Linked DNA regions of Homo sapiens: region 2 is linked to region 1. The links come from fine-mapping of genetic effects on gene expression. A gene starts in region 1. The other region holds a variant in brackets. All regions are shown on one strand. Distances are from middle to middle. Region 1 holds the start of ARNT2 (aryl hydrocarbon receptor nuclear translocator 2). Region 2 overlaps ARNT2-DT (ARNT2 divergent transcript).

The links. PIP is the estimated chance that this variant, and not a neighbour inherited with it, causes the effect. A credible set is the group of variants that fine-mapping cannot tell apart.
Region 2: its variant is the best candidate, but not a certain one, in a credible set for the expression of ARNT2 in lung (TOPMed, PIP 0.52).

Annotation. Positions count from the first base shown.
Region 1 is chr15:80,401,921-80,407,295 of GRCh38, reverse strand. ARNT2 (aryl hydrocarbon receptor nuclear translocator 2) reads right to left here and starts at 2,914. Exons shown (of 19, transcript NM_014862.4): 1 at 2,750-2,914. The coding sequence starts at 2,780. ARNT2-DT (ARNT2 divergent transcript) reads left to right here and starts at 3,100. Exons shown (of 6, transcript NR_184070.1): 1 at 3,100-3,305; 2 at 3,711-3,794. RefSeq lists an enhancer at 2,983-3,483.
Region 2 is chr15:80,375,216-80,380,590 of GRCh38, reverse strand. The region is part of intron 3 of ARNT2-DT (ARNT2 divergent transcript); the gene reads left to right. Among named protein-coding and RNA genes, the nearest start is that of ARNT2-DT, 26 kb to the left of the region's middle. The variant G/A (reference allele first, on the strand shown) is at 2,499.

The DNA of each region.
Region 1 (5,375 bases):
GAAGAGTGTCATTGTAAATGGTTCTGCTGTTGTGAAGTGGTCAGCTGGGAAAAAAGGAACAAGTGGGGGCGTGGGGAGGTGACTGGCTGTGGCCTTTGTACCCTGGACACGAACTAGCAGCAGAAATAAATCCTGGTGCTTCCCCATCCATTTGGTTCTGTTTACCAAGCTCTTATTCTTTGCAAAGCAACCATATCTGGGGAAAGGAGGCAGGAAGAAAAAGGAATTCAAAGAAGTCTCACAAGCCCATGTGAGGTAGGCTCTGGGTGACAAGCTTGGGTACCATGGCTCTTTTTGTTGTAAATTGCCCATAGAATCTGAACTCTCTCTCTTTGGCTCAAACCCTGAGCCATGTCCCTTAAAATTAAACCCTTTCTCCCAAAGAAAAAGATGGAGATTCACATGGGGCAATAATAACACATCCCCACGGATCATCCTCAGGGGACCAGTAAAAGAAATGATGGTAAAAGGAAAGGTGATCACCTCAAGGAATTTTCCCTTGAGAAATTATCACCATGCTGAAGATCTCTGGTATAGCTGTCAACAGAGAAAAGCATCTGTCAAGCTGGCCAGGTGTTGACTAGCAACGCCAACAATACCCTATGCTTGTACCATTCAAGTCTCCCGCAGTCCAAGGCACAGGCACAGGCTTTCCTGTGCTTCACACCACGGGGCCAGGGGCAGTTACTCCATCTTTAGATCTTTAGTCCATGTAGCTCATGGAGCAATGTAATGGACAAAAAAGTTTTAAACAATGATGTCCTGGCATAGAAATTATGTAAATCACCAGGGATTTTATTCCTGTTCCCAGTGTATATTGGACTAAAATGTTTTCATTTAACATCTTTTGCTTTTTCTAATTTCATAACATTTACATCTATCAATTTTCCATTGATTTTGAAGTAGTTGAATGGGTTGAAATTGCAGCTTCAGTCACAGGCAAACTGGCACAGATTTGTTTTCAGACCAGCCACGTTCCTCCTCAGTGTTCTGGACAGAGGCCTCCTTGTCTGTTCTTCCAAGAGTCCCTATTTCTGCTGATGGAACTGCCTTCCTTGGAATTACACAGGCTCTTCACCTTGGTGTCTCCATGGACACCTCCCCTTTGTCTCTCCTTGGCCTCCTCCTTTACTCTTACTCCAAATCTAATCAGTGCCAAATCTGGAACTCTTCTACCCGCCCAGTGGTGCATTCCTTCCTCTCTGGTCCAGCCATGGCCACCAATTCTGGCCTCCCCAGCACCTGCCTCATTTCATGCTGGCCTCCCTGTCTCAAGTCTTGTTCCCTCCTTAGAATGTTTCCTAGACATAGCTGACAAATCAGTCTTCCAGAAAAAGTGATCATGCGATTTCCTTGTTCAATACCATTGAGGTCTCTCTCTCTCTCTCTCTGTCTCTCTCTCTCTTTTCTATTTTATTTTATTTTTCTGGTTCTTAGGAAGTGTGCAGAGGACTCTCCCTTAATGTGGAGAGAGAAAGTCCATACTCCTCAGTCTGTCCTTTAAAGCCTGGTCACATCCAAACAACTCAGTGTTAAATCCCACTGCTGCCTCTTATATCCCCAGTGCACCAACTACTCACTGACCTCTGCACTTGCTTAGAGCAAGTCCACTGTTACTTACGCCTGCAATGCCCCTCTGCTACTGGCTCTGTATATTCAAACATTCCCGTTTTCAAGGTTCAGCCGAAATGTCCAATCTCCAGAAGCCTTCCCTGGCCGCCTTAGATGAAAGGGATCTTTCATTCCTAATTCTATGATGAGAGACACTTTTCTTTGCTAGGCATTGCTGTTCCTCCCCCGACCCTCCCTATCTCCAACACATGACCTCCCTCTGCTGGGAATTTCCTGGGGGCCGCCCTCTGTGACTCTCCCTGCATCTTCCACAGGGACCCAGCAACCTGCCGTGCCCACAGCAGCCTCTGCACAACACCCAAAAGTTTGTACTAGCTTAGATGTTCACGTTTCTCTTCTCCCACACCCTGCTCATCAGGTAGGGAACTTTCCCAGTGAAAACGGAACTTCCCTACTACAATACCAAAACAAGTCAATGTTGCCACTTGATCAAGAACTCTTCCATTTTTGAAATATTTCCTAATGAGCTCAGTTGTCACAGACTGCACCCTGGGGACAGGTCAGACCAGAAAGCAGAGGATGTCACCTGGGCAGGACCAGGGCTGCTCCACGCTGGTGACCACAGGCTGGGTGTTTTGTGCCCCCGGAGGGTTAGGACACACAGCAGCCAGTCGCAAAGGGCGCAAAGGACCAGCGCTTAGTGGGCGGGGCGGGCAGGGGAGAGTCCCGGGAGTTGTACCCTGTTGAATCCCAGCTCCAAACTTTTCCCTCCGTCAGCGCGGAGCCCTCCACCAGCCAGGACTGGCTGACGCCGTGATGCCACAAAAGCCGGGACCGGAAGAGAAAAATGCGTGGGATGGGGAAGGCAAAGGCGGTTATTTTCAGAACTTCGGGGGCTCCCGGGCCTGCCCTTCGGGTTCCCGAGGATGCGAGGCCAGCGTCCGGCCGCCCGCGGGTCCGGACCGGCGCCTGCCCGGGACCGGATGGGCAGCGATTGGGATGCAGATGCCGCTCTGGTGCTGATGCTGCGGCTGCCGCGTAGTGACAGCCGCTCCACCACCCACCGCGCCGAGCTGCGGCTCCGCGCCCCCGGGGGCGCCCGGCGCGCCTGGTCCGCTCCGGCCCCGGGCAAGGCCTGCGGGCTGCGGCGGGCGGCGGGGCCCAGGCCGCTACTCACCCGGAGGGTTGACCGCCGCCGGGGTTGCCATCTTGCTCGGAGAGGATAGGCGCCCGCTTGGCAGGGGCGCGGGAGGGGCGGCGCGGAGCCCGGCGCTCAGCCCCGGGGACCCGGTCAGGCCCAGGCGCCGCCGCCGCCACACAAAGGACGGCGCGGGCGGGCGGCGCTCCCTCCGCTCTCCCCGCCGCCGCGGCCGCTCGCCGTCCCCGCCTTTCTCTCCTCCTCCTCCCCCTCCTCGGCCTCCTCCTCCCGGTTCAGCCTTTGTCGCGCGGCGGGGGGCGCCCGGCCCGCGGCTCCCCGGTCAGAGCGGTAGCACCGCGAGACTTGGGGCTGCGGACGGCGGGACCCCCAAGTTGGGCGCCGGCGACTGGCGGGGGCAGAGGGCCGGGCGCTCCCTCGGGCTCGCGCAGGTGCTCGGGCCTGGCCGGGCTGGGACCGCAGGCGCCTCTCCCGCGCTCGCCTAGCCCGGGCTGCCCCCGCACGCCCACGCCCCAGGTGTCCGGGCGCGCTTTACCCAGGGGCGCCGTGCCCAGGCCAGGAGGCCAGGGCGGAGCGGGTGAGGGAGAAGCCCATTTAGATTCAGAGGGAAGCCGGTCCTGGGAGACGGCCGCGAGGAACAAAGGCGCCCCAGTGCTGCCCACTTAGCATGCCAGAGCCGCGCTGCTCGGCTCCCAGGCCGGGGACACGGCCCGGTGTTAAGCGGAGGGTGCCCGACCGCGGGAATTCCTAAGGCCACGCGCACCTCCAAGGCCACCGCCGCACACAGCTTCGGAGTGCACAGTGCACACGCCCAGGCACAGGCAGCCGGCCCGAGAAATTGTGAATGTCTTGGCTTTGAGTAAGGCGCTCATCTCTACCCTCCTTCCATAATGACTGCCGTTGATTATTACTTGAGGGCGCTGCAAGGGCCTTATTTACACCACCAAGTTGAGAATTTAAAAAGATTTTTTTTTTTAAATAGGTTTATCTGCGTATCCTGGCGAAGTTTGGATGCAGAGAACTTGGAGCTGTTGTTTTCTACCAGACACTAGGATCCCTGAGAGAGGTAATGGCCCCTAGGAAGGACACGTCACCATCGGGGTCCCCTGTAAAGGTTAAATGGAAGAATAAAGACATCCCAGGTGAACGCTGAGAAGGGCAAGTTGGTCCCTAAACGCAGATAATGTTTGCAGAGACATCAAACTGTCTTAAATCCTTCCAAGGAAGCATTTTCTGGAGGGCAGAAAATTTGGGATGTATGTTCAAATAAGCATTTTCTTCGGGGAGTATTTGTCACTACTAATCTAATAGTCTATCAGTTCTACAAATGTTGAATGTCTGCTGTGTGCCAGGCACAAAGCCAGGTGTTGGGCCTACCATGGAAAGGAAGAAACAGGAGCTCTGTTCTTCTGGTTTGGGGGGTAGAGTGGGGAAGAGTGAAACAAAGTATCTGCACTCAAGAAGCACACAGCTCCCTTGGGGGCTTAGGGCAGAAGCCCTGAAATTGGCATCTCCAGCCTGTAGTCACTAATGAATGAATGAGGGCAGAGAGGAGGTGGAGTGATCAGGGAAAATGAAAATTAGGCTTTGAAGACATGAGTAGGACAGGTGGAAAAAGAAGACATTTCAAGTAAAAAATAAAGCAGGTGTGCACCCAGCCACAAGATAGGCCAGGCCCAGACAGAGAAACCAGGGTATCAGCTATGGCCCGCTCTTGTGCCCCGTATCAAAGTTGACTGTTCCTGATTCCAACATCAAGCCAAATGAGAATTCAGCCTCTCTTCTACATACCCCGAAAAGCAACACACTCAAAATACCAACTTAATTAATGTATAACGTATACTGGACTGAAGATTTCTTAAGGAAAGTAAAAGAGGAGGCTCTCTTCACTCACTCCACATCAAAAAAGGTAAAACTCCATCTCAGATATTTCTGCTACCCAGAGTCCCTTCTGGATCCTTCTCCCCACAGGCAGTTCAATCTCTGGTGGCCCATAAATAGCCCATAAATAGCACTTGGCATCACTGCCCCCTATCCCACGAGGCTCTTTTATTCTCCAACTTTCCACACCCCTTAGAAGGAAGCAAGTTCCTCTCCTTGGTGTTTATGTATCAGTTTAGCATTTCAGCCAGGACCCATGGCTCATTTTGTCTCCAAATACAGTTCTAATATCATCCCTAAAAAATAAAATATGAGTGAACATGACTCTTACGCACACACACATTTAACCATACAAATTTGTTGACAAGTTTTACTTTCTTACTCTGCTGTTGTGTTCTGCCCATTTTTCTAAATGTTACTCGGCTGATATCTTTAAAACTGGATCTTGCTCAAGCTTCCTACTTCTTGCACTGGTCCATTGCAATAAAAGACAGGCGACACGTGGACAACTGCTAGACACTTCCCAAGTCTGGAGTCGGCCGTGCTGTGGTTTTTGGTACGTAATAAATACGTTTAGATTTTCACAAAGGAGACATTTCATCTTCTCCCCCAGTCAGTGTATTTCAGAGGTAGAAAGGACCTTCGACATCATCCAATTCTGCCCCTGGAGTTTGCAGATAAGGAAACTGAGGCTCAGGGTAGCCAACGTCATGCAGCTTAATAGCCAGACAAGACTTAGAACTGGGCTACGCACAATACTGGGATT
Region 2 (5,375 bases), 27 kb after region 1:
ATTCTTCCTACTAGCCCTGTTCTCCTGGATAGCTCCTTCTCCCTTTCATTCTTTGTCCCTCTGTTACAGATTTCTTGAAATTGCCTGGCTCAGAAACTTCGCCATTCTGTTCTGCGCCATCACATCTGCCCCCTGTCCCACTGCCCTACAGAGAGTCCTTCCTTCAGGTTTTATTGCTTGGTCTGGCCTGGGCCAGACCTTCTTGGCCTCAGCTTGCTGGCTGCTTCTTTGTACAGTCGTTGCTCTGCTCTGATTCCTCCACAGTCTTGATGGCTTCCCTGCTTTTCCTCCCCTGATCAGCCCCCCTTCATGGGCACACATCCTTCCAACATGTGAGAGAAGTTGGCATGGTAAAAAATGAGTAAAATCAGAATGAACTCTTTCCATATTTTATTCAGGAATGGCATTTCACAGGTTCTCTCTCTTACTGATTCCAGATCCAAAGGGAGATATCGATCCATGGAAGATGGTTGCTCTCGGAAAATGCTGAGAAGTTTGCAAAAGGAATGGAAGCAGAGTTAACCAATGTATCAGGAAGCTTACACTTTCTCCTTTTAAACTGCTGTGCTGGTCTATTAAGACATGCCTAATACCCAAAGCTGAGGGGCAAAAGGGGAGAGAATGAAGTTTATGCGTCTGTGTCATAGAGAAAAGCTGCCAAAATGTGATTAAGCTTTTTGAGTTAGAACTTAACAAAATGCCTTTGCTACTGGTTTCCATGGTTGTCCAGTGAAAAGAGTGAATACATTTATAGGAAACACAAAAGGTGGTTTCAGAGCTTGGGCAGGATGGAAGACGTATTTCTTCTACTATTCGCTCCTGTGAGTTTAGTGCCACAGACCTGCTCAGGCATCTGGGAGATGCCGGTGGGAGATGCCAGGGCTGAGCAGGTTTGAATTTCTTCCTAAACAGGGAATAAAGACCTTGAGGAAGGAATATAGATATTGAGGAAGACCCAGCTCCTCACTAATGAGCTTACCTGCTTTTCTTGGGACAGCTTGCCTTAAAGTAGACAGTGCTGTCATGGGCTTCTGGATCTTAGAAAATGCTTCTCATTCTAGGGGATTTTGGCCATGGAGACCATCGCACAGCTCTTCTCCCTTCTCCTCTTGGCTGCCATCCCAGTAAACAGGTCCTTCCCAGAACCCACAGAGGAGAAAGGCGTTGGAGAGGTGGTAAAGATCGTTGGCGGGCTAGGTGGCAATGTTAAGTCCTGAAAAACGCTGTGCGTTGGGGAGTTTCTTAGAACACTTGTGTTACTACAAAGGAATACTTGAGGCTGGGTAATTTATAAAGAAAGAGGTTACTTTGGCTTGCAGTTCTGCAGCCTGTACAAGAAGCAAGGCACCTGCATTTGCTTCTGGTGATGGCTTCAGGCTGCTTCCACTCATGGTGGAAGAGGAAGGGGCACCAGTATGTGCAAATCACAACAAGGTGAGAGAGAAGGCAGGTGGGGAGATGCCAGGCTCCCTTTTAACAATCAGCTCTCATGGGCACTAGTAGAGTGAAAACTCACTTATTGCTATGAGGATGGCACTGAGCCATTCATGAGGGGGTCCACCCTCATGGCCCTAACACCTCCCTTCAGGCCTCACCTCCAACATATGAGTCCTATCTGTGCCCTTACTTTTTTGGAGTCAGCATCTAAAATAGTCACTGCTTTGCTCCAACTGGTGTCTCCAGTAACTTGATGGGGACAACCTTCATCTTCTTCCACCTGCTCCATTCATGAACCATGTCTCCTTGTCCTGAAAGGACCAAAGGGTTTCAATTTTCTTAAGCTGTGCCTCAGTTTCCTCATCTATAAAATGAGCATAATAGGAGTACGTACCTTAGTTTAAGAGGACTAAGTAGTTTATATGTGACCACATATTAACTGAACTCATTTCATATCTCCAACCACCTACACAACATCTTTATGTCTAACAGAATCTTAAGTTTATTGTGGCAGTATGGAAACCTTGATTCTCCACTTCCCAAACCTGCTCTTCCCTGATGGTTCCTCTTACTGGTTAGTGGCACTGTTGTTCACCCAGCTACTCTGGCCAAAACCTTTGCCTCCTCTCTTTTGCTCACACCCCACATCCAATCCCACAGGAGACTGGACCTCTTCTCGCCTCTCCTATCACAACCCTAGTCCAAGCCAGTAGCCGGTCACCTGGATTGTGCACTGGACATTTCCACTCTCCCTGCGCCCACCCTTAATCCCTTTACTGCTGCCAGAGGGACACTTTGAAATTACTAGCCAGCCCATGAGCCTCTACTTCCAATCTTCTAATGGTCTCCCACATTTACAGTAGAATCCACTGTCCTTACCAAGGCCAAAACATCCCACCTATCTGGCCCCTGGCTGCCTCTCCAGCCTCATCTCCCTCTTCTCTCACCATTGCTTTTTCTGCCTTAGCCACGCTGGCCTGACTGCCTCCAGCTCAGGGGACACCTTGCTGTCTCCACAACCTTGTGCTCCCTGAGCTGGATATCATTCTCCTGATATCTGC[G/A]TACTTCACCCATCTCACTTCTGGTACATCTCTCACCCCCTGGATACCTCACCTTAAAATAGTACCACTGGACCCCCTCTGCCATGTTACACTGCTTTAGTTTTCTCATACTTGCTTATTACTCCTGAAACAGCAATTTGTAAATTGTCTCTAGCACCAGACTGTAAGGGCGGTAAGGACAGGGGCTTTGAGTGTCTTGTTCTCTGCTCTGTCTTCAACTCCTAGATGTGTCTCTAACGTGCAGTAGGTCCTTAGTAAATATTTATAGAATGCATGAATGAACCAGTAAGTATAGTGCCTGGCACATGATTAAGTGTTGAAGAAGTGTTAGTAATTATTATGGGCATTACTCACACTGCCAAACTACTTCGTGAATTTTCCCAGGGGTAGGGAACTCCTCATCTTCATATTTTAAACAGAACATCACTTTATTGAGCTAGTACCATAATGGGAACTTTAACAACCATTACTTCATTTCATCCACACATCAGCCTTATGAATAAGTGTTACTGTTCCCACTTTGCACATGAGAAAAAGAAGGATCAAAATGTCAAATGACCACCAACTACTCCATTCAGGATCACTTATACGGTTTGGCTCTGTGTCCCCACCACAGTCTCATCTCAAATTGTAATCCCCAGGTGTCTTGGGAGGGACCTGATGGGAGATGATTGGATCATGGGGGCAGTTTTCCCCCATACTGTTCTCGTGATAGTGAGGGAGTTCTTGTGAGATCTAATGGTTTAAAAGTGGCAGTTTCTCCTGCGCTGTCCTTCTCCTGTCGCCTTGTGAATAAGGTGCCTTGCTTCACCTTCTGCCATGATTGTAAGTTTCCTGAGGCCCTCTAGCCATGCAGAACTGTGAGCCAATTACACCTCTTTTGTTTATAAATTACCCAGTCTCAGGTAGTATCTTTATAGCAGTATGAGAACGGACTAATATATTCACAAAGCTGGAGGAGGGAGTGCTGTGAGTTAAACCCATCAGTCCCAAATCCGTTTCTCTTTCAACCACTCCCAGCATTGGTTCCGGGAACCCCAGGCATGGAGCTCTCCTTCCTCAAGATGCCCATAGCACCTGCTTTTCGTATTTGATGAATCTTGCCTTGCACTGTCATCAGGGGTCTCTCCCTCCGCTCCATGAGTTCCTTGAGAGCCGAGACCAAATCTTACTCCCAGAGCACAGGGCTGGGAATACAGCAGGAGCTCAGAAACATCTTGACTTGGGCTAGTGTGAGGAGTGGGAGAAAAAAGGGGAGGATTGTGTGTGCATGTAAGAGTGGGTCCTTTGCCTCTTAAAAAAGTATCTACTGCAGCTTGTGCTGAATATGAGTGTTTGGAATCCTCAGTATGATCAGGGAGGGCACTCAGAGAGAAGAGCTGGAATGATCTATGTGAGGGTTCCCCATTCAGTGTCATCTGGAGCAAATAGTCTTCCCCAGAGTTTACAAGTATATGCAAGCCCAGGGGACACAAGAAGCCAAGGTAGCCAAAGTTCACCTACCTGCTATGACAGCCCCCTGGGATGAGTCTTCTCCTCATTTAATAAAATAAATTAGGAGGGCTGGATATGCCCTAAAATAATGGTTCCATAACTGCAAAGAAGCTGACTGTAACTCTGCCACCTGTTAGGAACAGGATGTCACTGTCACTGAAACAGAAGACTGAAAATTAGCCCATGCTATATATAAATTAGGAGGGTGGCGGGGGGGCGGGGAACTGGGAACATCTTGTTTTGACATTCAGCAATATTTTCAAGGCTCTCTAAAGAAACTTGGAAGAAAAGAATGTAAAAGAGTCCAGGACCTAAAGGGAAATAAGGACCTGATTTTCAATCACATTTTGACCTGAAAATGAAATCAAGGCCTATATTGTGATGACTTGAGTAGCTTGCTGTCCTACAGCTGCACAATTGAAGTGGTTTCATTGCTGTGAGTACCTTCTGCCACTCACTAGATTCTGGAATTAATCCTCTGCCAGGCTAAAAGCAGAAACAGCTACGGATCTAACACTTCCTAGGAAGAAGTATTTAGCAGAAGCAGTGGTGTTCAATGTGGAGGCATTTTAACACAGGGTTCCGGAAGGTTCATTTGCATCCTGCACTGACCCAGCACAGGGTCTGTAGTGGTCACAGTGGTTGAATTCCCACCATCTATTCCTTACCAAATAATCAGACTAAGCCAGTGGTTCTTCATGAGAGGCTATTCCCCTCCCCTACTAAGGTGACATTGGCAATATCTAGCAACGTTTTTAGTTGTCATATCTGGGGAGGTGCTACTGGCATCTCATGGGTAGAAGCCAGGGATGATGTTTAACATCCTACAATGCACAGGAAAGCACTTCAACAAAGACTTACCTGCCCCAAAACGTTAAGAGTGCCGATGTTGAGAAAACTTGGTGGTCTATGGGGTTTGATTTGCCAATGCCTGCTTTAAGAATGAGTGTAAGACTTCATCCCAGCAAACAGTCTTGAAGCAAAGTCTGTTGGAAGCTATTTGAGAAAGGTTCTCTCATTCTTAAGAAGAACCAGAAGAAACTGTCTCTTTTCTTTTGGCTGTTGCAGTGTTTGAATATGACTTCTGGACCTGTTGTAGCCACTTTGAGTCCCTGAAGGGAATAATTTTGAGAGCAATCCAGCCATATCCAGTAAAGCCGTAGGTGTGCATAACTTGCGACCAGCAATTCAGCCCATAGACATATGCCCTGGAGAAGTCTTTACACAAGTGCACCAGAAGACAAGTACACAAGTGTTCCTGGCAACATTGTAATACTGAAAACTCACCAATATTTGTTTGTGAATAGGCAAATGGATAATTAAATTGTTACATAACTATTAAAAATAAATATTTAGGGCCGGGCGCGGTGGCTCACGCCTGTA